Homo sapiens: one gene and its partners. The protein of the gene in region 1 interacts with the protein of each later gene in a pairwise test. Each region holds a gene or a part of one and is shown in the gene's direction. Other genes may lie near its edges.

Region 1 (6,860 bases):
TGTTTTGAAGGACTATGGAAAACAAATGTCAATGACAATGAAATTTTAACATTTATTATACATTTAAGCAACTTTATGGGAAAAAGAATCTGATGAACATCAAATTACTTGCATGCTCTAAAATACCTTCATGCTTTGTAACTGTATATGCAGATGTTTTATATAGTAATAACTGAGGTGCACACTGTTTGTATTTACTTTTTTCATTTTAGTTATTAACAATATTTCATGTATACTTGTCCATTATTAATATTTTCAAAACAGAAAATATAAAATTGAATAGAGATCAATGCAAAATGTACTTTGGTTAAGAAAGAAATGCGGCTGGGCGCAGTGGCTTACACCTGTAATCCCAACACTTTGGGAGGCCGAGTTGGGCGGATCACCTGAGGTCGGGAGTTCGAGACCAGCCTGACCAACATGGAAAAACCCCGCGTACTAAAAATACAAAATTAGCCAGGCGTGGTGGCCTATAATCCCAGCTACTTGGGAGGCTGAGGCAAGAGAATCGGTTGAACCTGGGAGGCGGAGGTTGCAGTGAGCCAAGATCGCGCCATTGCACTCCAGCCTGGGCAACAAGAGCAATACTCCATCTGAAAAAAAAAATGCATAAGTATAGGATGTGGGAGACCCAATTTAACAGTAGTTCAAGTGAAAATAAAGGGCTTACCCATTTTAGTATGCTGTAAATTGAATATAACTCAATAGTGTAACATGGCTATTATTATATTTGTGAATGCATGCTTTTTAAATTTATTTTTATTTATTTTTATATTTTTAAGAGGCAGGATCTTTCTTGTTCCTTTGCCCAGGCAGGAGTGCAGTGGTGCAATCATAGCTTACTGCAGGTTCGAATTCCTGGGCACAAGTGATTCTCTTGTCTCAGCCTCCGGAGTACAGGATTACAGGTTACACCACCATACCCAGCTAATTTTTTATTAAAAAAAATTTTAAATTTAATTTTCTGGCGGGGCATGGTGGTTCACGCCTATAATCCCAGCACTTTGGAAGGCTGAGGTGGGAGGATCACTTGAGCTCAGGAGTTCAAGACTAGCCTGGGCTACATAGCAAGACATCGTGTATACAGAACAAAACAACAAAAACAAAGAAAAGAGAGAGAGAGAGGAAGGAAGGAAGAAAGGAAGGAAGGAAAAGAAAGAAAGAAAGAAAAAATTAGCAGGATGTGGCAACGCCTGTGGTCCCATCTACTCAGGAGACTGAGGTGGGAGGATTGCTTGAGCCCAGGAGGTGGAGGTTGCAGTGAGCCATGATTGCACCACTGCACTCTAGCCTGGGCAACAGAGCAAGACCCTGTTTCAAAAATAAAATAAATAAATAAAGGCCGGGCACGGTGGCTCATGCCTGTAACCCCAGCACTTTGGGAGGCCGAGGTGGGCGGATCACCTGAGGTCGGGAGTTTGAGACCAGCCTGACCAATATGGAGAAACCCCGTCTCTACTAAAAATACAAAATTAGCAGGCGTGGTGGCACATGCCTGTAATCCCAGCTACTAGGGAGGCTGAGGCAGGAGAATCGCTTGAACTCGGGAGGCGGAGGTTGCGGTGAGCCGAGATCGCGCCATTGCACTCCAGCCTGGGCAACAAGAGTGAAACTCCGTCTCAAAAAACAAATAAATAAATAAAAATAAAAATAAATAAATAGGCTGGGCGCGGTGGCTCACGCCTGTAATCCCAGCACTTTGGGAGGCCGAGGCGGGCGGATCACAAGGTCAGGAGATTGAGACCATCCTGGCTAACACGGTGAAATCCCGTCTTACTAAAAATACAAAAAAAAATTAGCCAGGCATGGTGGCGGGCGCCTGTAGTCCCAGCTACTCCGGAGGCTGAGGCAGGAGAATGGCGTGAACCCGGGAGGCGGAGCTTGCAGTGAGCAGAGATCGCGCCACTGCACTACAGCCTGGGCGACAGAGCAAGACTCCGTCTCAAAAATAAATAAATAAATAAAATTTCTTAGACACAGAGTCTTTTCCCTATGTTGCCCTGGTTGGTTTCAAACTCCTGGCCTTAAGTGATCCTCCCCTCCTGCCTCAGCCTCCTGAGTAGCTGGGATTACAGGCACACGTCACAGAGCCCAGCTGTCAGTGTATATACCTTTCTCCAAGACTTTAAATTTCTTTCTTTTCTTTTCTTTTTTTTTTGAGACGGAGTTTCGCTCTTGATGCCCAGCAGGCTGGAGTGCAATGGCGCGATTTCAGCTCACTGCAACCTCCTCCTCCCAGGTACAAGCGATTTTCCTGTCTCAGCCTCCCAAGTAGCTCAGATTACAGGCATGTGCCACCACGCCCGGCTAATTTTTTTTGTATTTAGTAGAGACAGGGTTTCACCACGTTAGTCAGACTGACCTCAGGTGATCCACCCACCTCGGCCTCCCAAAGTGCTGGGATTATAGGCGTGTGCCACGCACCCGGCCAAGACTATTAAGCACCCAGTAGGTGGTTTAAATTGAATGGAACCAGAAGCAGAACTTTGGCCAAAGAGATGGGGACAAAGGAATGAGAGCAAAGGTGAAAAAGGCAAAATGTCAAACAATATCATTCTTTTGGATAAAAATGTGGTCTTTTCCCTTGCAATGAGGTAATGCTAAGGAAGTTTTTTCCCCACAGTCTGCATATGCTTAGTACAGTTAAAATTAAATCATCGTAAAATAGAAACTACAACTAGCAAAGGTGTTGAGCATGAATTTCAATTAAAAATGATGTAGCAATATAAATATTAACAGAAAGTTTGAGTATCAACATTGTCTATAGAAAAAAGGTGGCTTAGTCAGCACACAACTATTAGTCACAGTGAGAAAACAAACAATTCTGAAATGTAGGGACCTGTTCACAGATCAAATATGTGTAAAGGACATATCCAGTCACCCAGAGATGTTTCTAGAGCATGTTCAGCTCAGTTTGTATCATCTGGGTGTGTTTTGTGTACATCTGTTTAACTTTCTTCTTGAGATAACGTAATTCTGCTCTTCCCAAGTTGTGTTGTTGTGGGTTTTTAAATTTTTGTTGTTGTTGTTTGTTTTTTGAGACAGGGTCTGGCTCTGTCGCCCAGGCTGTAGTTCAGTGGCGCGATCTAGGCTCACTGCAACCTCCGCCTCCGGGCTCAAGCCATCCTCCCACCTCAGCCTCCCAAGTAGCTGGGACTATACTGCCCAGGCTCCCATTTTCCAGTTGAGTGCTCCCTTTCCCTTTTTTTTCCCCTTTCTTCCTCCCAGCGTAGCTCATCTCTCAAAGCCGGTGGGGTGGACAGAGGAACAGTTTGGAGGTGGTGCCAAAGTAACATTCCATTTCTCTCCGGGTCTTCTCCCCTACCCTCCCATATTAATATTTGTTTTTTACTTGCCAAGAGGCAGGACCAAAGTTTCTGCAGGACCAAACTGCAGGTGCAGTTGCACCAAGCAACTTACATTCAAACAAACACAAAACCCCAAGCCAAGCCGGTCTCCGTAAATCCCACACCACGACTGCCTTTCCTACTTCCTCCTTAGAGGTACTTCTCAGCCCTCTAGCTCCAACTGAGAACCCAGCCAGTCAGGAAGTCGCTACTTCGGGAACACCAACCAATCAGGGGGCCGTCACCTGCTGAAGGTGCGGAATTCGTCTCCTGACGCGACAGTCTCCTGGGCCAATCTGAGGCAGCTCCTGTGGGGAAAGGCGCCAGTGCGCCGAGGCGGGGAGTGGCGGCGGGGTAACACCTGGCCGAGGTGACTCGTTCTGAAGAGCAGCGGTTCCTTACACCAATCGGAACGTGCAGGGGTGGGGAGCTGGCCAATCAGGCGCGGAGGGCGGGGCCGGGCGGGGTTCCACCTGGCGGCTGGCTCTCAGTCCCCTCGCTGTAGTCGCGGAGCTGTGTCTGTTCCCAGGAGTCCTTCGGCGGCTGTTGTGTCGGGAGCCTGATCGCGATGGGGACAAAGGCGCAAGTCGAGAGGAAACTGTTGTGCCTCTTCATATTGGCGATCCTGTTGTGTAAGTTCCCAGAGTTTCGGGAGGAATCGGTTGGTCGGGTCAGAGGTTGGAGGAAGGCTCTCCCCACGCCCCTAGCCCGCGGGAGGGGAGGAGCTCAGAAACCTTCCTATATCGTTCTGCGAATTATCTTTTCCACCCCTGGCTGGTCCCTCTTTCACCACTCTCACAGCTGGGTGAGTGGCTGGCTCCCCTCCCCCACACTGGTGAGTTGTGACCGCACCCCTCACGGCCACCAGGAGGGAGCTGACCCATCTGCACACACCAGAGGTACACTCCTCGTCCTCACTGGAGAGGGCCGTCGGGCCAAGGACCCTTCCACACTCATCTACCCAGCGCGCGCTCCACACGCACCTGGGAAGGGCCAGCCTGCCCCTCCAACGGCCACCCAGCATCCACGAACCCCGCTGCGCAGCCGGGAGCCTTGGCTCCTTTAACGGTCTTCGAAGAAAATCAAATGGAGGTGGTCTGGGGTGGAAGTCTCTTCCCCTAGCTTTTGCTGAAGGAGTCTCTGGCTCTTCTGAATCTTTGAATTGCGGCGGTTGCTCTGGGAAAATGTCTGGGTGCACAGTCTAAAGAGGAAATGCAATAGAAACCTGAAATTTCTCTAAGCGCAGCAGAGGTTCCAGCGAAGTTCCTTTATGGAATAACTACCTCAGGAGTCCTTAATACGTGTTGTTGATTGAGTGACTCTTCCCAGGGGGAGAGTGTATCTGTTGGTTGGCTGGATTCTCATCAGAGCCAGAGCTCTGCCCTCCCTCTGGCTGTGTATGAGAGTTTTTGTTTCCTTTGTAAACTCCCTTTCCTGAGGAACAATGAGGCTCACTTGCTAGGGCATGCCTCTGTCTCTAGATGTGTTTGTGTGGGGCTGAGCGTTTAGTCGGTTGGTTTGTGCGTTAGTCAACCTGTGGCAGTACCTGTGTGTTTATCTGATTCTTGAGTGTGCGTGTCGTTGTGTGAGTAGTTGTGTCAGTATGTGTTCTACATGAGTCTCCCCCCACCCCCAAGGTTCTTGTTTTAGAAAGTGTTAAATGAATGATTACAATCAGTTTGGTGTATGTAGATTCCCTGCCCTTAGATGGATTGACTGCTCATTTCTACCTTATCACAACATAAACCCTTGGGAGAGATTGGACCAGAGGCATATATCATCCTCTTTCTATTTTACTGATAAGGAAACAAGTCCAAAAGGGGAAATGACTTCAATGACAATAGAGTTAGGGGTGGAACCTGGGAATGGAACCAAACCCTCTTGACTTGCTTTTCCTTTTTCCATTCTTTGATCCAGCATCTCAGGCACCCTATAGCACAAGAACTGTTTGGGATACTGCTTCAGAATCTACTGTCTTACTTACCTTTAAACTTACTTTCCCACTAGCTTCTTCATTCATGTCTCCCTCTTTTTTTTTTTTTTTTTTTGAGTTAGAGTTTCGCTTGTTGCCCAGGCTCGAGTGCAATGGTGCCATCTTGGCCCACCGCAACCTCCGCCTTCCGGGTTTAAGCGATTCTCCTGCCTCAGCCTCCCGAGTAGCTGGAATTACAGGCATGCACCATCACGCCCGGCTAATTTTTTGTTTTTAGTAGAGATGGGGTTTCACCATGTTGGTCGGGCTGGTCTTGAATTCCTGCTCTCAGGTGATCCACCCGCCTCGGCCTCCCAACGTGCTGGGATTACAGGTGTGAGCCACCGCGGCTGGCCATGTCTTCCTTTTTTTCTACTCTTTGAGTTCCCTTTTCTTTAATTTCCCTTTTTTCCCTACCCCTTGCCTATTTTACTTCTGCCTGTATTTTAGAACTGCTAGTGACACCCATAGTCAATTTTTGGTTATGTGGTTCTGGTACTAAAGGTTTTTCCAACCTTTGTACTGTGCCAGTATTTTTCCCCTAAGCCCAGAAGTTTCTTCTGTGTGAGTGACTGTATTTGTAACAGTGTTTGTCTGTGACAGTATTTGTCAGGCTTAAAAGCTTCCTGGAGCTGCTTACTCCCTATCCTTTGCCACTGCTTCCTTTCTTTTTTCTCCCTCTAATTTCCTATATTATTTATGATAATCCTAAAATAATCATATACTGGCACTGGAAGGTCATGATAACACCATTTTGAGCTTGGAGGTGTCTTCAGGGAACCAAGCCACAGTAGTGCAGAGGGAACCTGAGATGATGTCGCATTAGCCTGTTAGGACAGTGGGTCCTGGGAAGTGACTTGTCCAGGGGATGGAGGAACTGACCTTGTAACTTTTAAATCAGGCTAGATCTGGGGTTGGGTTGGGGGAGGGGAGTGATTTGGTTAGTGCAAATGAGGATGGAAATGGGAGCTGGGCCACCATACCTGCATTCTAGCTTGGCTTTCTCTCTGCCTTGTTTGTGATCTTAGGCAGTAGCTCAGTCTTTTCATCTGTAAAATAGCAGTAATACTTGTCCCACCTTTGTCAGGAGGATCAACCAGCATAATAGTTACATTACATATACATGAAGGGATTATTTTTGGGCAGCTGTTATCCCCTGTGGATTTTGTGAGGATGGAAGAATGCCAGAATGCTGTCCCTAGCTGAGTAGGTAAAAAAGGAAGCAGGGAGATCCCAAATGGCTAGAGTCAGAAATCAAAAAGCAGGAGCTTTTTCTTGGGTGTCTAGCTTGTCCACTGTCCCTGAGAGGCGTGGATAGGTTGCCCATATGTTCTCCCTGTTCTTCATTGTGGGCTCTGCTGTCAGGGAGGAAGTAGAAAAGGCAAGATAGGACTGACAAGTCAGGCAAAGGCCTGGCCCCAGCTTGGGGAACCTAATGGAGGGGAAACCCTGACCCTGTGGGGCAGAGATCCAGAGGGTAGACACTGGGAGAGCTGGACTTGGGAAAAGTAAAACTGATGACCCAGAGTACTAGCCTCCCT
Region 2 (7,032 bases), on another chromosome or scaffold:
AATATTTGAGTGTATTTGTATGGACAATTTTTATAGCAATATAAAAAGCATGTGATTTTACTTTCTAAGGACAACAAGCTAAGCAACCTAGGAAAATCAGTTTTGTTCTTCTATCTGGGCAGAGAAGTTTTACTATTTGCAAAGTGTTTGGGGGGAAATTTGAACCTAATCTTCATCTCCCAGCAGACTTCATTGTATTTTGGAAGATGCTTTTAATGGTATTGAGAAGTAAGCTCTGTAAGGAGGCGTGAGGAGTTAGTAGTTTTCCTGCTTTTAAGGGAAGCATCTTATTTGTGAGGAAACTAACGCACATATTATAAAGTGTTAAATGGTATAAACAGTATGTGGGGTTCAGAAAAGAAAACACAGAAACCTGAAAGATGGGTTTTAATTGGATGGAGGGGGAAAAGGGGAACGGAAGATAGAGTAACCATTTTTGTGGAGTGGAGTGTGAGCTCTGCCAGCCCGTGTGGCGAATGTGGTCGGATGATATTGAATCAGGTGCAGGGCCTTCACAGTTTTATAGGGGTTTAATGTAGAATTAACATGGAGAAGAACAAGGAGATATATCAAGAATGACTTTTGGATGTTATGATCCTAATCCTTTTCCTTCCTGTCTGGTATTTCCTGAACTGCATTCTCCTAATCTGAAATTGGGATGAATACTAGGAACTCAGTATTCATCATTTTCCACCAGGTCAAGGTTCTTAGCCAGTGGTCTTTGGGAGACTTCTATGGCATCTGTTAATACTTACAAAATTGTGTACAAATCTTGTTTGTGAGAATTTGGGGTACACGTTCCATAGCTCTTATGAGGTTATTTTAAGGGATCTGTGACCCAGGGAGTGTCAAGAATCATTATTCTAGGTTCTGTTCACCATAATTTAATTATATATTTCCCTATTTGAGCTATTGAGTGAACTATTGGTGCCTCTTATTCATAAGGTTAATCGAATGGAATTTTGTACTTAATTTTGCCCTTAGGCTTACAAATACCTTCGAGAAGAAGTCAAAACTTTTCAAGGAAAACCAATTAAGGTAAGCAAGACCATTGGTTATACTTTGTTTATTTGCAAATTGATGTTCTTAAGTATTCTAATAGAAACTTACATATTTTCAAACAGGCACGGATAAAAGCAAAGGCAATAGCTATAAACACATTTTTGCCAAAGAATGGATTTAGACCCCTGGACGTGAGCCTGTATGCCCAGCAGCGCTACGCGACGTCGTTCTACTTCCCTCCCATGTACAGCCCCCAGCAGCAGTTCCCCCTGTACAGCCTGATCACTCCCCAGACGTGGTCAGCAACGCACAGCTATCTTGACCCACCCTTGGTACGTCATTTCTTTACTAGGAATTTATGTTGTAGACACTATGCTAGATAATTTGAAGGATTAAAATCCTCATCTAATAGGAAGCCAGATATGTGTGCAGTCTGACATACTAAAACAGACCTTCAAGTTATGTGGGGGATTTTAAATGTAGCTGAGAACAGAGCTTATGCATAAAGAACTTTGGATTGCTGTGAGCACAATCCTTGCACAGCCCGTCTCCCCTCTTGTCATGCAGCTCTTAGCAAGACGCAGAGGGCGATAAGTGCTGTAGTGTACCTGGCGTCCCCTACACAGAGTACAATGCAAGGGGGATTAACTGAGGAGGAAGAGGTGTTTAATAGGCTTCTGACAGCAAGGCCAAGGAGAAGGCCTGCTGTTTTACCAGCCTTATTTTACTCACTTCTCACCAGCATTAGAGTTGGTCGACAGGATTAATTTTTATGGATTTTGGCCTTTGTTAAGGCCTATGGTTGGAATTCATAAGTCTGTACTGGATCTAGACATTGTCTCTTTGTGTGCTGCTATAGATGCTTGAAAGATCAAGTGCATTCTGGGTGGGAATTAGCATGAGTTTGGTGGCATTGGATGCACGAGAGTCAGCAATACACGGATGAGCATGTCCTTGAAGCTGAAGTCTAGTTGAGAAGTGAAGATGGGTTCATGGCCTAGAGGTTTGCATGAGGTAGCAATGCAGGTTAGTTGGAATTGGAGAGATTGAAGGGTAGCATACATAGAAGGTTATGGTCAGAAAGCAGAAATTGAGTTAGTAACTTTGAGAAGAGTTCATGTCCAGGGTTTCGCTGTGGACTAAGGGAAAGACTGAGTGGTCCTCAGGGTCGGATGGCTGGGAGCCAGGCACCCTGATGTGCAGGGATGTCACCGCTGACAGGCAGAAAAGGAGGGTAGGTGCAGAGCAGAGAGAACTTGAGAAAACAAGTGCCTGTATACACGGAAAGTAAAGATACGGGTCCATGAAACAACTCAGGCTGGAAAAGTCAAACATGCCAAGGAGACACGTGTACAGAATGCCAGAACACTGACAGGTCTTATCAGGGATTGTGTTGTCATCTAGGTTGAGCTTTTCAGGTTAAGTATGAGTTTTTCAGAAGGAATCAAAGAGAAGTTTCATGAACAGAAGATGGTCGTAGATTCATGGGTGTCTGAGCTGAAGCGTACACCGGGTGGCAGGGAGTTGGGGAACGAGCTGGCAGTTTCCAGGCCTAACTGCGCAGGTGCTTAGCTGTCCTGAGGCATGTGGGCTTTGGCCTAGTGCTTGTGGGAAGGTGTCTGAGGTTTCTAAGCGGAGAAATGAAACCATACTCCATTTAGAAAATAGCTCCTAAGGCCGTGTGAAGGGCAGGTGGGGACAGGGAGAGATTTTCAGAGGACCCCAATTCCCCCTGAGTCTGGAACCACCGCAGTGTAAGAACCTTTGGTAAAGTTACTTCTGTCTCTTTTGAGTAAGTCCTGATGGTAAGAAAAGTTTCTGGCTTTTTGAAGTAGCACATTCTATAAAAGTGTACCCATAGCTGAATACTTCGTTTTCCCAAAAGCATATCATGAGAGAACCTCAGAGAGACTTGAGTCCGTAGGCTCTGGGTGTTGAAGAATCATCGCTGCACGTGGCTTGCCATGCTAGTCCTTTCAGTTCTTCCTGCAGCAGTTGCTTCTTCCGTTTCTTTAATCATGGTTGACCCTCTCGGGGATCCTTGGGGTTCTGGGTCAGCTTATGGCCTTGACTTATGTTGTATGTTCAGGTTGCGGTGTGTGCCAGACAGCTGGTCCTGCTCTGAGTCTGTGATACTGGGGCTCTCCATCGCAGCCTTTTACTTGTGCTAAAACATGTGCGTCCTTTGTTCTGCAGCTGAAGAGATTGTGCCTATTAATCCCCAACAAGTAATAATAGGAACGCATTAATAATCAACTTTATTTTTTATATATGACCAATTTTATTTTTTATCTTGAGCAAAATTACTGGAATATCAGGGCTCTGTCTGTAAAATGACTTGCTGGAAATGATTAGTCCTCATTGCTCTGCCCATGATTTACAGCCTCAGATCCAGGTCTGCATTCATGGCTCTTCAAGTGTGATGTATTTTCTTTTTCTTTGAGACAGAGTCTCTCTCTGTCGCCCAGGCTGGAGTGCAGTGGCCGGATCTTGGCTCACTGCAAGCTCCGCCTCCCGGGTTCACGCCATTCTCCTGCCTCAGCCTCTTGAGTAGCTGGGACTACAGGCGCCCGCCACTACGCCCGGATAATTTTTTTGTATTTTTAGTAGAGACGGGGTTTCACCATGTTAGCCAGGATGGTCTTGATCTCCTGACCTTTTGATCCGCCCCCCCTTGGCCTCCCAAAGTGCTGGGGTTATAGGCATGAGCCACTGCGCCCGGCCATGTGTGATGTATTTTAAAAAGTCCGATTCTTACAGAGTGAAGAGTTTCTCAAGTAGCAAATTGAAGATTCTAACTTCCCTTTTGTATGATTTTATTTTAGTCCTAAGCTATAATATTCTTTTTCTGTTATATCTTCCAGTTAGCTCTAATTAAGGAGAATTACTTGCTTTTTTCCTTTCCTTTCTCTCTTCCTCCAAACAAGGAGGGCTCTATGCGTATCTCTGTCACTTTAGTGACATTGAGGGTGTGGACTGGAAGGCCCTCAGGAACTAAGTGCCCTGTGTCAGGAGCATAAGGAGCGAGATATCAGTGATGCAGAACGTATTGGAAACCATGGGTCCAGAAGCCAGAGAATTAGAATGAATGGTCTTGAGTTTTGTTTGTTTGTTTGTTTTTAAAGGAACTGTTTTAACAATAAGTTTTATCTTATTTTTGTATGTGTCTAGATTTTAAAAATAGTTGGCCGATACTTAAAATTCTATGCTCAATATTTTTAACTACTTAAGATCTTTTAGGGGTTCTGTGACCCTTTCTAATTTCTTCTGAATCTTATGTTAGTATATTTGCATGCCATACTTACCTTGTGACTTGGGGAATAATGATGATCTGAAAATACCCTGATCTGCAGAGCAGGACTTGTGTCGGGGTAAAGGTAAAGGCCCTGTCAGGCTGTGGTTGGATGAAGCCGAGTGAGCAGCAGTGGGTGTGCAGGTGCTCCTAAGATTGAGAATGTTGATGAGTTGTATTAAAGCCATCAGGAATCAAGAACTGTTGACTTCCTGCCAGTGATGGAGGTCGTATCAGACTGACATGCTAAAGGTTACAACACTTGTTGGAGCCCATGCGCTCTTGACCACGTCTTTCCTCTCAGTGCCTGCTTCCGCATGTGTCAGTTCTCCTCGCTGGATTGTTGTAAGGATTGGCTGAAAGGATGCACAAAAGCTCCAGCCTACTTCTAAACAGCACCCATTGGTGATAAAATTGTAAAATACATGTCTCAGCATGGGTCATGACTCTGACAACATCAAGAAATGCCCTCAGTTTCCACAGATTTGTTGGTATTAATGAAATTGAAGTCTGTTTTATGGTTTATTTACTTGTCTGTTTTCAAATGAATCTAGGTAACTCCATTTCCAAATACTGGATTTATAAATGGGTTTACGTCTCCAGCGTTCAAGCCTGCGGCGTCTCCTCTGACTTCTCTCAGACAGTATCCTCCTCGAAGCAGGCAAGTTCCGGGGCGGTCTTAGCAGTTTTGGTCTTTACGCTACTGCCCTTCCGGAGTTGGGATGAGAGAGCTTTGATCACTAGTCCTGCTCCTCGCAGACAGAGCCACCTGAAGCACACAGCTGCATTCTGTAAAGACTAAGCACTACAATCTGGCATGGGTGCCCGCCTCAGATTCTCTGAGAGGAGGCTTTGGGGCAACTTGTACACATCAGGTGTGCCTGATTTTAATTTGGGCCTGGACTGAAAAACAGCTAAGCAGAATTGTGGCACATTGTTAATAGATTTGCATTATCCTATATGTTAGGAGTTAACCATTCCAAATCCTATTTTTATACTTTATTAAACAGAGAGCAGATTTCAGCTTAGCTATTCCATGTCAGTATGCATGTTATGTAATGCCTTGATCATTTTATAACTCAACACATAAAACCATTTTTATTTACAGGAATCCTAGTAAATCTCATCTGCGGCATGCGATTCCTAGTGCAGAGAGGGGACCTGGGTTATTAGAAAGTCCTTCAATATTTAACTTCACTGCAGATCGATTAATTAATGGTGTCCGGAGTCCACAAACAAGGCAAGCAGGTCAAACTAGAACACGGATTCAAAACCCTTCAGCATATGCCAAGAGAGAGGCTGGGCCTGGGCGTGTGGAGCCAGGCAGTCTCGAATCCTCTCCTGGTTTAGGGAGGGGAAGGTGAGTTGTTGAGCAGTTACTGTGTAACATCATAAACTAATATTTTAAAAATTATTTAATTTAGATATGTTTTGTAATTGTCTTTAAATATGTCACAGAAAATCTAACTGAAGGCTATAAACATAAGGGTTTTATATAATTGCTAAGACTTAAATGGCTTCATCTTTTTTGGAATATGAAATGGTTCAGTGAGAACTGTAGTTGTTTTAGATCATTATTTGTAGAAACACTGGAGCTCAATAGCCATAGACTCCATCCCATGTGCCTGCAGTCTCCTCTTGGCAGCACCCCTGGCTCACCAGGCCCCTCTGCAAGGGCGGTGTCCAGGCTCTGCCCCATGGCTGCTGGCCTGGCGCCCTCCAGCTGGGTGTGCACCAGGCACTGCAGGTGGAGCCTGGAGCGGGTAACCAGGCAGATCAGCATTGCAGTCTCATCTCATTGGAGGGTTGAGACTAGCCAGGACGGGTCTTAGCTGTGCTTCCTGCCCACCATTTTTGGTTTTGTTTAACATTTTTTTGGCATCAATCCTGTAGTAGGTTTTTGTTTGTTTGTTTGTTTGTTTGTTTGTTTTTAAGACAGGGTCTCACTCCGTTGCCCAGGCTGGGGTACGTTGGCATGATCATGGCTCACTACAGCCTTGAACTTCTGGGTTCAAGCAATCCTATTGCCTCAGCATGCTGAGAAGCTAGGACTTCAAATGCACACCACCATGCCTGGCTAGTTTTTAAATATTTTGTAGAGACAGGATCTCGCTGTGTTGCCCAGGCTGGTCTTGAACTCCTGGCCTAGAGCCATCCTCCTGCCTCAGCCTTCCATAGTGGTGGGATTACAGGCATGAGCCACCGCACCTGCCCATTGTTGATAAGGCCAGTTGATCTTCTCAGTCCTTGCCTTGGTAAGGACCGTCAGGATTTTCCTCTCATAAGTGACAAACAAGTGACTCAAATACCTGAGCTTTTTCAGGGTGTTCTATATACAATGTGTACAGCACCATCCCTGACGTGCAAGCTCCTCTTCCTGCCTGCCACAGTGCACACCCTCTGTGCAGTGAGAATTCAACATGAAGAGGCATCAGAAGCATCTCATTCCTGCCCATAATGATTCAATGAGCACATAGGAGTTCCTGCAGGGATTGTGCAGTGGCATTGGAAGGCACCATGGTCTGGGAGAGCTGGCACTGGCCTGTGTCTCACAGGAAACATGGCATCAGGTTGGCTCAACAGGCCTTGGAGATGCAAAGCCAAAAGGGGCCCACCGTGTCATGGAGAGTCAGTGACTTCAGGGAGCAGTTGCTAGCCCTGGGTCTCAGTTTGGGGTTCTTAAGACCCAGACGCTTGGAGGGAGGAGGGTTGCAGAGCTGGGGCTCAGACTTGGGACA
Region 3 (7,032 bases), on another chromosome or scaffold:
ACAGCTGCAATCATTTATAATGCACTAAATACTAGCATTATCTAAATGCTTTATATACACTAACTCACCTACTTTTCTTGATAGTCTTTTAAATTTATTTAGCTAGGTAGTCTAGGCGGGGAGAATTGCTTGAGCCCAGGAGTTCAAGACCAGCCTGGGTAATATAGTGAGACCATGTCTCTACAAAAAAATTTAAAACTTAGCTAGATGTGGTGATGCATGCCTGTAGTCCCAGCTACTTGGGAAGCTGAGGTGGGAGGATCACTTGAGCCGAGGAGGTTGAGGCTGTAGTGAACCATGATTATACCACAAGATCCTGTCTCAAAAAGAAAAAAAAAAAAAAAAGCTTTCTTTAATGCCTTACAGGATTTTTTGCAAGCCTCCACTTATTCTGAGTTTTCGATTTCTTGATACTATTCTTAAATTCCTGGTTAGATTCCTCTTGGTGATCTGTACTTCGGCTTTGTTCTTGTAAAATCAGAATTCAGTGAAGATGCCCTTATTTAGATATGTTGATTTCCTTATGTATTCTTTTTTTTACTTTTCACCAGAACCTCCTTCTTCAGTAACTCTTAATCTCTCTTGAATGTTCTTCTCACGAGCCATGGAATTCTAACTTGAAGTTTTACATTTTTGAGTTTTGATTTATTCAGGACTGGAGCACATGTCTCTTAACTGTGCTGTGTTTGGCTCATGCTCAGATCACATGGTTGCTTTCTGCCAAAGTTCCCATCACATCTACTTCATCACCCAGCAGTTTCTTGTCAGAATCAAGTCCAGATAAGCTGTTTCCATCACTATTTTTCCTAACTGTAGAGACATTCAACTGGCAGGAAACTAAGTCAAGAATTTATCAGGCACTCTATTTTTAGCAGTTGGAGCTTCCCAGCAGATGTTGGGATAGGTGGTATCTCACACTATGATTTTATTCTATCTATGCCAGTCTTGAAATTTGTATTATAGGAAAGTATACTTGTTAATAATGTATAGTCTATAGCAGTGGTTCTCAAACTTTAGCGTACATCAGAATCAACTGGAAGGTTGGTTGAAACAGATTGCTAGGCCCATTCCCATAGTTTATGGTTCAGTAGGTCTGGGGTAGAGCCTGACAGTTTTTATTTCTAACAAACCCCCAGTGGTGCCACTGCTGCTGATCCAGGGTCCATACTTTGAGAACCACTGGTCTACAGTGTCTTCTGTTTCTCCTTTTATCTTCATGCAAACAATTTAGACCAAGCTTGCTCTCTCAGGTACCATAAAGTGGCACTTTTCTTATATCAGGCTTATTTATTTTGAACAAGGTATATACTTCCTTGTCATATTACAGTCATGAATCTCAACCCTCTAATTTCAGTGATACTATTGAGATAGTATTTATCTTTCAGGAAAGACTGATGAAAGCTCCTGACAGTTTAGAAAAGAAAGAGAAAATAAAGTGAAACAGAGGGTTAGGACCCATATACTTGGATCTGTGAGCACTGGTCTCACACTATTTTGGTTATATATACTTGTCAATTTTGCCTATACATAACAGAGCTGTGTATTGTAATCTTCTTTATTCATTTAGTATGTATCTTAGTCCATTTTCTGCTGCTATAACAGAATACGCAGAGTGGGTAACTCATAAAAAACAGAAGTTTATTTGGCCCATGGTTCTGGAGGCTGGGAAGTCCAGAACACGGTGCTGGCATCTGGTGAGGCTCATTCTATGGCAGAAGGCAGAAGCGATCCCATGTGACAGAGGGAAGTGGGCTGAACTCATCCTTTTTATCAGAAACCTGCTCCCTCAATAACTAACTCATTCCCTCAGTAATGGCATCAATCCCTTCTTGAGGACAGAGCCTTCATGACCTAATCATCTCTTAAATGCCCACCTCTTAATACTGTTAGAACGGCAATTAAATCTCAACATGTGTTTTGAAGTTGACATTCAAACCACAGCAGTGTGTATAGACAATGTATCTGGTACACAGAAGGTATACTAAAAATTCAATAAATTGGGGAGTCTTAAGAGGCAGCACTGTATCCTGTAGGTGATGAGGAATAAATAAGTTAAATTGTTATCATTTTCAGGATTGATGCTATAAGCTCTTAAATTAGAGTGATAATAGAAATTAAAATTAAGTAGTATGCTGACTTGGCCTGTTCAAAAGTTCATGCTAGAGTGCTTATTGGTATTAGGAAACAGTGGGCACATATTATATTAAGCATATACTATGGCTGTGATTTGAGGGACACATTTTTCACTTAAGCCAAGTGCCCTGGTTAATTTCTGGAATGGTCTTTTTGTTTAGTTGTCTTATTCTGTAGAATAGCTGTGTCTGATGTGGAATATACTTTTAGTAAGACTGTAACAGGTTTTTGTATTTATTTGTTTGGACTCTTGGATGAACTCTGTTTATTAGTCACTAAAAATAACTTTAACAATTAATATTGCAGGTGGAACAAAATCCATTATTAGGGTTTGGCGCTATAGCTATTGCTGTATTGTGCTCAGGATTTGCAGGTAAATCATGAAAGCATTGTTTTATTCTTTTGTCATATTTTTCGAAAACATCAAACTTTAGACACCAGTCTAGTTTATCTTGCTTTCTCAGTTTTATTCCCATTAAACTTGATCTTCTTGCTTATATTTAGTTTTATGTCAGCTGTTTTTCCAGTAAATGTATAGCATTGTTCAACTAAGTTCAGACTCAGTCCCTATTCATACTTGCAGTTAACTACTTCTGTTATCCTTGACCATCTCAGTCCGGCCAAAAACCCAAAAGTAAATGAAAAAAGACTTCTGAAAATGGAGGAAATTAGTCTTCAGAAAGCCCTTTCCTTTTTTCTGGAACTGCCACTATCAAGTCAGATCCTGCTGCTTTAGGTTGTTAATGTTACCAGCTAAGTATCTTTTTTTCCCCTATAACCTCAAGTTCTTTCTCTGCTTTAACAGGTTAGGAGCTATGGAGTAGGATCATGAGGTGGGTCGAGAGTACCTTAGAAAACATAATACATAAAGCTAATAACCAAACAGGGAGGAAAGACAACACAAAATCACTAACATCAACAATCCACGGAAGTCTGGCGTTGTATGTGTAGGGACAAGCACTCCTCCAATGCATCAAGATAAGAAAGTATGAATATTAAGTGTAACATAAAAAAAGTTTTAGAAATAGTTCCAGCAGAGATTTAGTTTTTAATATATTCTGCTTAAAGCTTTTAGTAGAATATATTAGTTATAGCTATACATCTTTATTATTTATTTGTACCTATTTCAAGTCAGGACTATTTTTGACTAGGAAAGCAGGCTGAATACAGAAGTAAAATACTGCTTGTAAATAAGATGTTTTATACGAGGGGAAAATTTAAATTCAGGAATATACTTACTGATAGCATTGTGTTCTAGAAACCAACAAATTGGGAACAAAAATTGAGTTACCTAAAAAATATGCTATTTGATTTTTTGCAATATTTTGAACAGTTAAATGATTATGTCCAACATTTTATTAGTTCACTCTCTTAATACACAATTGAGGAAATGGAGGGTGGTTTAATATCTCTCTGTGTTTACGGTAACTGAGCACTGGATAAATGCTTCTCCCAGAAGGTAAAATCAGAGGTGAAAATAAGAATAGCTATTTTATGTTCCCATTCCAACAGACTCATCAAAAATAATCTTGTTTTTCGTTAGACTTTTTAGTTGATAAGTACTTCATTGGCAGTTCCTAAGTCTCTAGCATGATATTTATAACTAAAATCTTTAATGGCTTTGTAAAATATGCATTCATTTTAAGCATAAATCCAGAGATAGGGGACTTTTGTTGGGGAGGGGTATCATGTACTCCTTTGAAGTATCTGAAAAAATCTATGGACCTTCAACTCCAGAAAAATGCACATATACACAAAATTTATTATCCAGTTGGGGAGTTCATGATCCTTCTGACCTTGTGTATGAACTTGGCTTGTGGAACCCTGCTTTAAAGGAAAATGGCTTTACACAGCAAATTCTACTTCAGTTTTGGTTGTTACTCTGAAAAGATTCCTAGTGGTGATTATAGATTATATTGCAGAATTAGGAGTATTCATTAGTAGGCAGATATTACAGGGATGTGATTAAGATAATTCACTCTTAATGTAGTTTTTCAGCTGACCAAAGCAAATGACATACTGGCATTAAGTAGTACAGAGAGCTTTTGTGGTCTTACTGCTCTAATAAAGGCAGAAACTGTCTTAATTTAACAGCCTTCTGTTAAATGTAGCTTATAAACTTCCCAATTAGTTATTATTCTATATACTCTGTAAAAACATAAATTTATAATGTACAGTATGTCATGTGTCACACAACCTACATAATAAATGCACATTTAAGTAAAGTATGTTTTGTTCCCCAAATCATATACTTTATATATCTCTAGGGTATTGTTCTAAATGAAAGACATTTTAAGTTAATTTATAGTAATCTTTAATATTTGCATGTCTAATTTTCTTTCAGGAGTATATTTTGAAAAAGTTTTAAAGAGTTCAGATACTTCTCTTTGGGTGAGAAACATTCAAATGTATCTATCAGGGATTATTGTGACATTAGCTGGCGTCTACTTGTCAGATGGAGCTGAAATTAAAGAAAAAGGATTTTTCTATGGTTACACATATTATGTCTGGTTTGTCATCTGTAAGTATCCAGGAATTAAAGGTTCTTAGTAGATCCTTTATTTTTTTTTTAAGTTAGATGTCCATTTTAAGCTGTTATAACATTTTGAAATTAATCCTTTGATACTGTAAATACCAGTTTGAATATAATTTTCATTTTGTTGACTTAGTTTTGATTGTGAAGGCAAAATTGCTTTGGGATAGCAATGCCCCAAAATATCTAACATTAGCAAAAAATGTGTAAAATTTAATAGACCACATAGCCCTCTGGGCATTGTTTTGGAAAAACAGTGTTATATAGGAACTACCAATTTTAGTACAAACTCTCAGATGGCTCCTTCTAAGGAAAACAGTATTTTCCTTTTCCTAGGTAAAGTATGGCATCTCTGGGGATGAAAATTGCCTCACCATTATGTAATGTTTCATTTATTTGAGTGATAAGATTTTATTTCTCTCTGTATACAAGTTCTTGCAAGTGTTGGTGGCCTCTACACTTCTGTTGTGGTTAAGTACACAGACAACATCATGAAAGGCTTTTCTGCAGCAGCGGCCATTGTCCTTTCCACCATTGCTTCAGTAATGCTGTTTGGATTACAGATAAGTATGTCTTAGTTTGTGTTGAGTTTTTAACATGGAAGAGCCTCCCATTTCCTTGATTCATTTAATCCCTTATTTAAAAGTGGCAGTTGGTCATACTGTTTACAGAAATTCCTAGCTTTGTTACTACAGTTTATTCCACCAGTACAGCTGTTCATAGTTGTGTGGGATGTGGCTAAGCAGTACTTTGGTTGTTTAGGTGGTCTTAGAGGTTAAGACGAGGGGTGCTAGTTCTATGTGAAAGTGAGGGGACTTTTTTTGCAGTCAAGGCCTCCCTGTATTTTTAGGTATTGTATATAGGACAACTTGAGTGTCTGAATGTGAGAAGGTACTCAAGGAAATACATATAAAGACTTTAGGAAATTATTTTCAGCAGTCAGTTTAAACTATATTGGCTCATTATTTAGAAGAATGTAGAAAACATCTTTTAGTCCTCCCTCAGCTTGTACTTTCCAACTGCTTTGCATTTGGGTGTGAGACGGTTTTGAAAACAATCAAAATCTAGATTTTGTCTTTTGTATCTTTGTTTCATTCAATATGTAATTAATACAAAACTCATTAATATAGCTGGCATTCCAGTACCACTGCTTTGTTAGTCCTAATATAATTTTCCCAACTCTCACACCCAGCATTAATTTGGCTTCTAAATTATTTAAGCAATGATATTGACTTAACATTTCAGGGTGCTTTTATAGTGTAATAATTTTCTTTACTGATCAATTATTATAATATAAACCAATGTATGAAGAATATCTGTTAAATATATTAAGTAAAAGAGACCTGGCTTATATTTACATTTCATTTTAAAATTGACTCCTGTATATAAATGGAAATAGTGTTGTAGAAATTTTAGAAAACCATGTATAGTCTGTGGCAAATCTTGCCTGTACCATTTCTTAACTGTGCAGCCTTGGGGAAGTTATATTCCCTGGGTGACACTTTCTTCATCTGTAAAATGGGAATAATATCACCTATTGCCTAGTGGTGTTTTCAGGTGAAGTGCTTAGAGTAGTGTTTGACACTACTTACCAACCACTTACCATTTCAGTATCAGGTACTTATAGGCTTTCCCTTAGATGTTTTTCTACCTGATTTGGGTGAACTTTTAGCTGTAATTCTGATCTATCTTTATGTTCAACAAAATCCTTATACCATTGCTCATAAGAAATATATAGGAACAGTAGAAAATGCTTTTGTTTAATGTTCTTACTGATGGTCAACTAGCATGTCTTAGCAATCTTTCAGTTAACTGTTTAGATACAAGTTTTTATCCTACCTTCTCCTTTTTTGAAGGCAAAGCTGGTCTTTTTTAGTTAGGAGTGAACTAAAATAAAGCTTGATGTCATATAAATATATTTATTTGTCAAGTTAGGACAAGTTATGATTTGGTTTCTTGCATCCTGATTTTTAAGATTAAAATGAAAAAAGGTGCCGGGCATGGTGGCTCATGTCTGTAATCCCAGCACTTTGGGAGGCTGAGGCGGGTGATAACCTGAGGTTGGGGACCAGCCTGACCAACGTGGAGAAATCCTGTCTCTACTAAAAATACAAAATTGGCTGGGCACGGTGGCGCATGCTCCTCCCGGCTACTCGAGAGGCTGAGGAAGGAGAATTGCTTGGACCTGGGAGGCAGAGGTTGCGGTGAGCCGAGATTGCGCCATTGCACTCCAGCCTGGGCAACAAAAGCGAAACTCCGTCTCAAAAAAAAAAAAGATGAAAAAAGGGTTAAGACTAGTAGGAAATGTAGTTTTATTCAGTAAATTATCGCCTCATCTCCGATTAAGAAATTATCAATGGTTTGAA
Region 4 (5,565 bases), on another chromosome or scaffold:
GAGAAGTTACAAAATTTGCCCAGGAGTACACAAAAATTAAGTGGCAGAGCCAGGGTTCAAACCAACCAGGTATGTTCCAGTTCCAAAATTCATTACTTTCTAATCTGCAAGAGATAGCAAAGCCATGATAGATGTGCCTCATCTCCCTGCAGGTACATTTGAGTAATGTTAGTAAAAGACCATTGCAAACTCTTGGGTCATACCTCCCAAAACACTAAAAGAAAGTAAAATAATGAAACTCATTTTAATTGTTTTATTGTAATTGTAAACAAGATAAGGATGTGATCAGTTCACTTTGTCTATTTTTTTATTTTTAATGTCACTTTGTCTATTTTGTTTATTTTTTGACTGATAATTTTAATATTTATCTGTGATATAGCTCCCAGGAGTAGATTTTGCTGATCCACAAGGTCCATCAGTAAGTACAGATCTCAATGAGACACTTTCTGTATTTTATTTTTTAATTTTTATTTGTTCACTTTTTTATTTTTATTTGTATTTAACTACTTTGTTCATTTTTTACTGATAATTTTAATATTTATCTACAATATAGCTCCCAGGAATGGATTTTCCTGATCCACAAGGTCCATCAGTAAGTACAGATCTCAGTGAGACACTTCTATTTTTTATTTTTATTTTTATTTGTTCACTTTGTCTATCTTTTATTTGCATTTATCTATTTTGTTCCTTTTTTGACTGATAATTTTAATATTTATCTGTAATATAGCTCCCAGGATTGGATTTTGCTGATCCACAAGGTTCAACAGTAAGTACAGATCTCAATGAGACACTGTCTTGCAAAAACTGTCTCTATATTTCAAAAAATAAGAGTGAATTTTTTCATTGTCCCATTTATCCATGAATATGAAGTATAATGGGTTCCTTTGTTCTCTTAAATATTAAATACTTATTTTCTATACTAATCCATCTGAAAATGTGTTTCATATACCTCAAAAATTACTGTTATGGGGATGTGCCTGTGAGAATTACTTATTCTGTTTTCTACCATTTAAAGATTTTCCAAATAGCCCGTTTGATTTCTCACGGACCAATGCCACAAAATAAACAATCTCCAGTAAGTTTTTTTTAATACCACATCTCTGTTTGCAATTTACTTAAAAGTTTTTCCATTGGAAAATGCATTTTGTGATAATGATTGTATTTTATTTAGCTTTATCCAGGAATGTTGTACGTGCCTTTTGGAGCAAATCAATTGGTAAGTCCATATTCTATAAAAAGTATTGTTTTTAATTAAATTTTATCTTAAGAGCTAAAATTCAAAAATCTAGGTCTCACACAAGAGATTCCAAATAAACATTCTCTGAACACCTACATTAGTACTGAAATATTAAGGAGGCAAACTTCCTATTTGGATAATCTTGGCCAGACACACACACACACACACGCACACGCACACACACGCACACAAGGGTATTAAAGAAAAAACAAATTTTAGATCTGAATTATCCGAGTTGACTACATTTATTCCATAATGACTCACCTCTCCACTTTGCCTCTGTACACAGCATTAATATTAAGGTTTAAGTGAAAACTAAATAACTTTTAACTTTGTCTTGAGTAGATAAGAAGGTAGCTGGTTCGTAATTTGACGCAATATTTCTTTTTGAACAGAATGCCCCTGCCAGACTTGGCATCATGAGTTCAGAAGAAGTGGCAGTGAGTAATGTCTTCTAACTCTTCTTAAAATAGTGGCCAGGGAAGAACAGTCACTTATGACTGGCTGCAAGAGACGTCTGCCATGAATGTAGCCAAATGAGCATGGGACTCAGATTTTTCCACTCCAAAAACTAAGCTTAATTCTGAAGCAATATCCAAAGATTTCATCATGTTTCCTATGTAATCTTTCATTTCTGGGTGATGACTATTCTTGAGCATAGAGTTTTGCCCCATTGCTTGTAGATGAACAGAGGAGAAAACTCCCCTTGAAAGGCCGTCATTGAACTATAAACACTTCAAACCAAAAGGATACACGTGGTTCATACAGAGTTCTTGTTCTTTCTGGGACCATTTAACCCCTCAAAACATCAAATTCAACAGCATTACAAGTAATTCAGATCTCAAAATTGAAAGATCAAAAAGCAAAAGAAAACCAAGTTTAAAATGTGATTATTATAAATGTCAATGTGCATTGTCAATGAGCATATACTCTTATTATGTTATCATTATCCATGCAAGTTTAAGATTTGAGATCAATAAAGTCATACAACTTGACTTTTTCCCTAAGAAAATTTTTGCCTGTTACATCTGTTAGAGCACAAGGCAAGACAAAACAAAAGCTATATTGAATTAACAAATCACTGTCAACTACAGATCCTGTCAAGTTAACAAACACACACACATATTATCTGTGAAAGAAAAATTACATCTCAGTATTTTTGTGTGCCTTCCATGTGCCACACACATAGGAAAATACTGTAAACAAGACAAGGTAAGATTTTCGTTTTTGGCTGGGCGCAGTGGCTCATGCCTATAATCCCAGCACTTTGGGAGGCTGAAGCGGATGGATCACCCGAGATCAGGAGTTTGAGACCAGCCTGGCCAACATGGTAAAACCCCGTCTCCACTAAAAATACAAAAATCAGCCAGGTTTAGTGGCGCGAGCCTGTAGTCGCAGCTACTCAGGAGGCTGAGGCAGGAGAATCACTCGAAACTGGGAGGCAGAGGTTTCAACGAGCTGAGATCACGCCACTGCACTCCAGCCTGGGCAACAGAGCAAGACCCTGCCTTAAAAAAAAAAAAAAAAGTCTTGTTTTCAAGGAACTTACAGTCTAATGAATGGAAAAGATAGGTACAAGGGCAGATACCTAATGTCAAAATCATGGGCTAAAAGTAATAACAATTTTATTAGAGAGAAAGAGTCAGAGAGGAAGGGCAGTTAGCCCAGTCCAGGGATTCACAGTATCATCCCTGGAGGAGATGATGTGAAAGCTGAGAGAGAATGAAGAGTCAGGAGAAAGGAGAAGGAAAGAGTATTGTATCTATATAGCACCAATACAAGTGGCTGGAAGTTCAAAATTCAAGTAAGTGTTAATTGCCATCACATAGTATTAATTATTTCTATTCTGCCTCATTCCCAAAAGATTTTGTAGAGCTTATGAAAAACACACAATAAATATAACAAAAAATTGAAAGTAGGATTTAAAATGAGTCATAATTTCAAGAAAATCAGAATACAGATATGCAAGTCACACAGGCCTGCTCAATTGCTACAAACAGCCTAAGATTTTGGACCCCATATTTCTGGCAGCAAAGGTAGAAAAAGAAACATGGTCAGTGCTGGTATTCTATTTGTCCACAAGAAGAAAATATTTTAGTTACTCCAGGGAAGTCACATTTTTTTTCTTAAACTTTGTGCTTTAAAAAAATTAAAGTCTTAGCTGGGTGCAGTGTCTCACCCCTGTGATCCCAGCTACTAGGGAGGCTGAGGCAAGAAGATCACTTGAGCCTAGGAGTTCTAGACCAGCAGCCTGGGCCGTATAATGAGACCCCTAAAAGAAAAAAAAAGTACATGGAACTTCATTTGGGGGACACTGAAAAATGCCATTGACAAGATTCTCGCTCAACAAATGCAGTTATGAATTTCAGTTCTTATTTGTTTTGTGATGGTAGTACTCATTTCAACTGCTTGTTTTCTTAAAATTAAATTCAAACTCACCTTTGCCTCAAGTCTTGCTTCTGCCCTGTTATCTCCCTTTTACGGAAATCATGCCGAGATCCACCCAGATAAGTGCAGAATCCTCTTCATTATGTTTCAAAGCCAGTTTAGTGAGAAATGAGCTTACACAAAGCTATCAATCAGCCAACTTCCTATTCTCCACCAGTTTTTTAGAGATCCTTGGTGAATGTGACCAGGTATAGCTGCATGGTATAGTTAATAGCATGTGATGATGGCATCTTTGACGAATGTTTTTTTTTCCAGGGCGGGAGAGAAGACCCAATGGCCTATGGAGCCATGTTTCCAGGATTTGGAGGCATGAGGCCCGGCTTTGAGGGAATGCCCCACAACCCAGCTATGGGCGGTGACTTCACTCTGGAATTTGACTCCCCAGTGGCTGCCACCAAAGGCCCTGAGAACGAAGAAGGAGGTGCACAAGGCTCCCCTATGCCGGAGGCCAACCCAGACAATCTAGAAAACCCAGCTTTCCTTACAGAGCTAGAACCTGCTCCCCACGCAGGGCTCCTTGCTCTCCCTAAGGATGACATTCCCGGCCTGCCAAGGAGCCCTTCAGGGAAGATGAAGGGACTCCCCAGCGTCACCCCAGCAGCTGCTGACCCACTGATGACCCCTGAATTAGCTGATGTTTATAGGACCTACGATGCTGACATGACCACATCCGTGGATTTCCAGGAAGAAGCAACCATGGATACCACGATGGCCCCAAACTCTCTGCAAACATCCATGCCAGGAAACAAAGCCCAGGAGCCCGAGATGATGCATGACGCATGGCATTTCCAAGAGCCCTGACAGCTCTAAGATATTAGCTACTTTCTGTATGCACAAGCTTCCCAGCTTTGTCCCCACAGTGTACCTTTTTGCTAAAACACTTATTACCCTTCTGCAGCAAAGGCATTAAAAGCGCTAAGCATATATTAATAAATGCAAGTGGCTAGAAATAGTGTAGGTCCCCTTCTTGCTTTCAATATCTTGTTGAAATAAAATGTGTCAATTGTCTCTGTGATTTAGAAACACTATTAATAACATCAGAGCAAGGTTCTAAGGGTCTCAGCATTTGATCATCACTTTTTCTTAGCTGTCTTAAGCATTATAGAATTTCTCTTACCAGCATGACACTATTATATTCAGGAAACATGGCACTGCTTTTTTCTCTAAGCAAAGGCAAATATCCTCATAATTCTAAGCTAATTCATTTAAACTTTATTAAATGGGGATTGGTGGAAAACTCCTGACTGGTATTACTGGGTTTGGTATAATTTAATTTAAAATTCTCATTTATAGAGTATTTTATTTAATCTAGTATAAAAAATCTAGCCTATTTTAAATAAAGAATTTTTCTCACTGAAATTATCAGGAATTGTATGCTTATTATTTATATAGATTTAAATGGTTCAAGAAAAGCATACTCATCCTCTACCTTTGCTTCTCTTTAATTCATTGTATTCAATTCATTCATTCTTTCATCAGAATTTTACTGAATATTCATGTCCTGGGTGCAGTGCAAGGTATCAAAGATACAGTCCCTTCCTTCAAAGCTTACAATGGACATGACTGACAAGTAGACAATCACCATAACAAAACCCTAGACCAAGCTCAATTACTTTACATATATTATCCCACAACAATACTGTGAAATAGATACACTCAACCCCACAGCACATGTGAAAAGTGCTATGAAAAGGCCAAGCACAGGGTGCCCCTGGAGCCACAGAGAAGAAGTGCCTAACCCAGCCTGAGGGTCATCGGAGAGTCTAGGAGGAATCAGACAAGTTTTCTCAGAACAGTTTCTAGAAACGGTTTCAAGAGCGAGAGCCCTCACTCTCCAAGAGGAAGAAACAGAAAAAGAGCCATGTGGGTGTCATGTGAAA

What was found.
Region 2: the proteins of F11R (region 1) and LARP4B interact in binary tests that used the Homo sapiens proteins (3 or more experiments, as listed by UniProt).
Region 3: the proteins of F11R (region 1) and SLC35A1 interact in binary tests that used the Homo sapiens proteins (3 or more experiments, as listed by UniProt).
Region 4: the proteins of F11R (region 1) and AMBN interact in binary tests that used the Homo sapiens proteins (3 or more experiments, as listed by UniProt).

What each region holds. Positions count from the first base shown.
Region 1 is NC_000001.11:161,018,129-161,024,988, reverse strand, and holds the start of F11R (junctional adhesion molecule A isoform 1 precursor), read left to right. Parts: upstream 1-3,836; 5' UTR 3,837-3,915; coding exon 3,916-3,979; intron 3,980-6,860. UniProt on the Homo sapiens protein: Seems to play a role in epithelial tight junction formation. Appears early in primordial forms of cell junctions and recruits PARD3.
Region 2 is NC_000010.11:823,687-830,718, reverse strand, and holds part of LARP4B (la-related protein 4B), read left to right. Parts: intron 1-984; coding exon 985-1,038; intron 1,039-1,124; coding exon 1,125-1,334; intron 1,335-4,848; coding exon 4,849-4,955; intron 4,956-5,402; coding exon 5,403-5,654; intron 5,655-7,032. UniProt on the Homo sapiens protein: Stimulates mRNA translation.
Region 3 is NC_000006.12:87,503,943-87,510,974, forward strand, and holds part of SLC35A1 (CMP-sialic acid transporter), read left to right. Parts: intron 1-2,439; coding exon 2,440-2,506; intron 2,507-4,477; coding exon 4,478-4,654; intron 4,655-5,098; coding exon 5,099-5,233; intron 5,234-7,032. UniProt on the Homo sapiens protein: Transports CMP-sialic acid from the cytosol into the Golgi apparatus, functioning as an antiporter that exchanges CMP-sialic acid for CMP. Binds both CMP-sialic acid and free CMP, but has higher affinity for free CMP.
Region 4 is NC_000004.12:70,602,245-70,607,809, forward strand, and holds the end of AMBN (ameloblastin precursor), read left to right. Parts: intron 1-379; coding exon 380-418; intron 419-553; coding exon 554-592; intron 593-727; coding exon 728-766; intron 767-1,015; coding exon 1,016-1,075; intron 1,076-1,171; coding exon 1,172-1,216; intron 1,217-1,632; coding exon 1,633-1,677; intron 1,678-3,940; coding exon 3,941-4,486; 3' UTR 4,487-5,044; downstream 5,045-5,565. UniProt on the Homo sapiens protein: Involved in the mineralization and structural organization of enamel.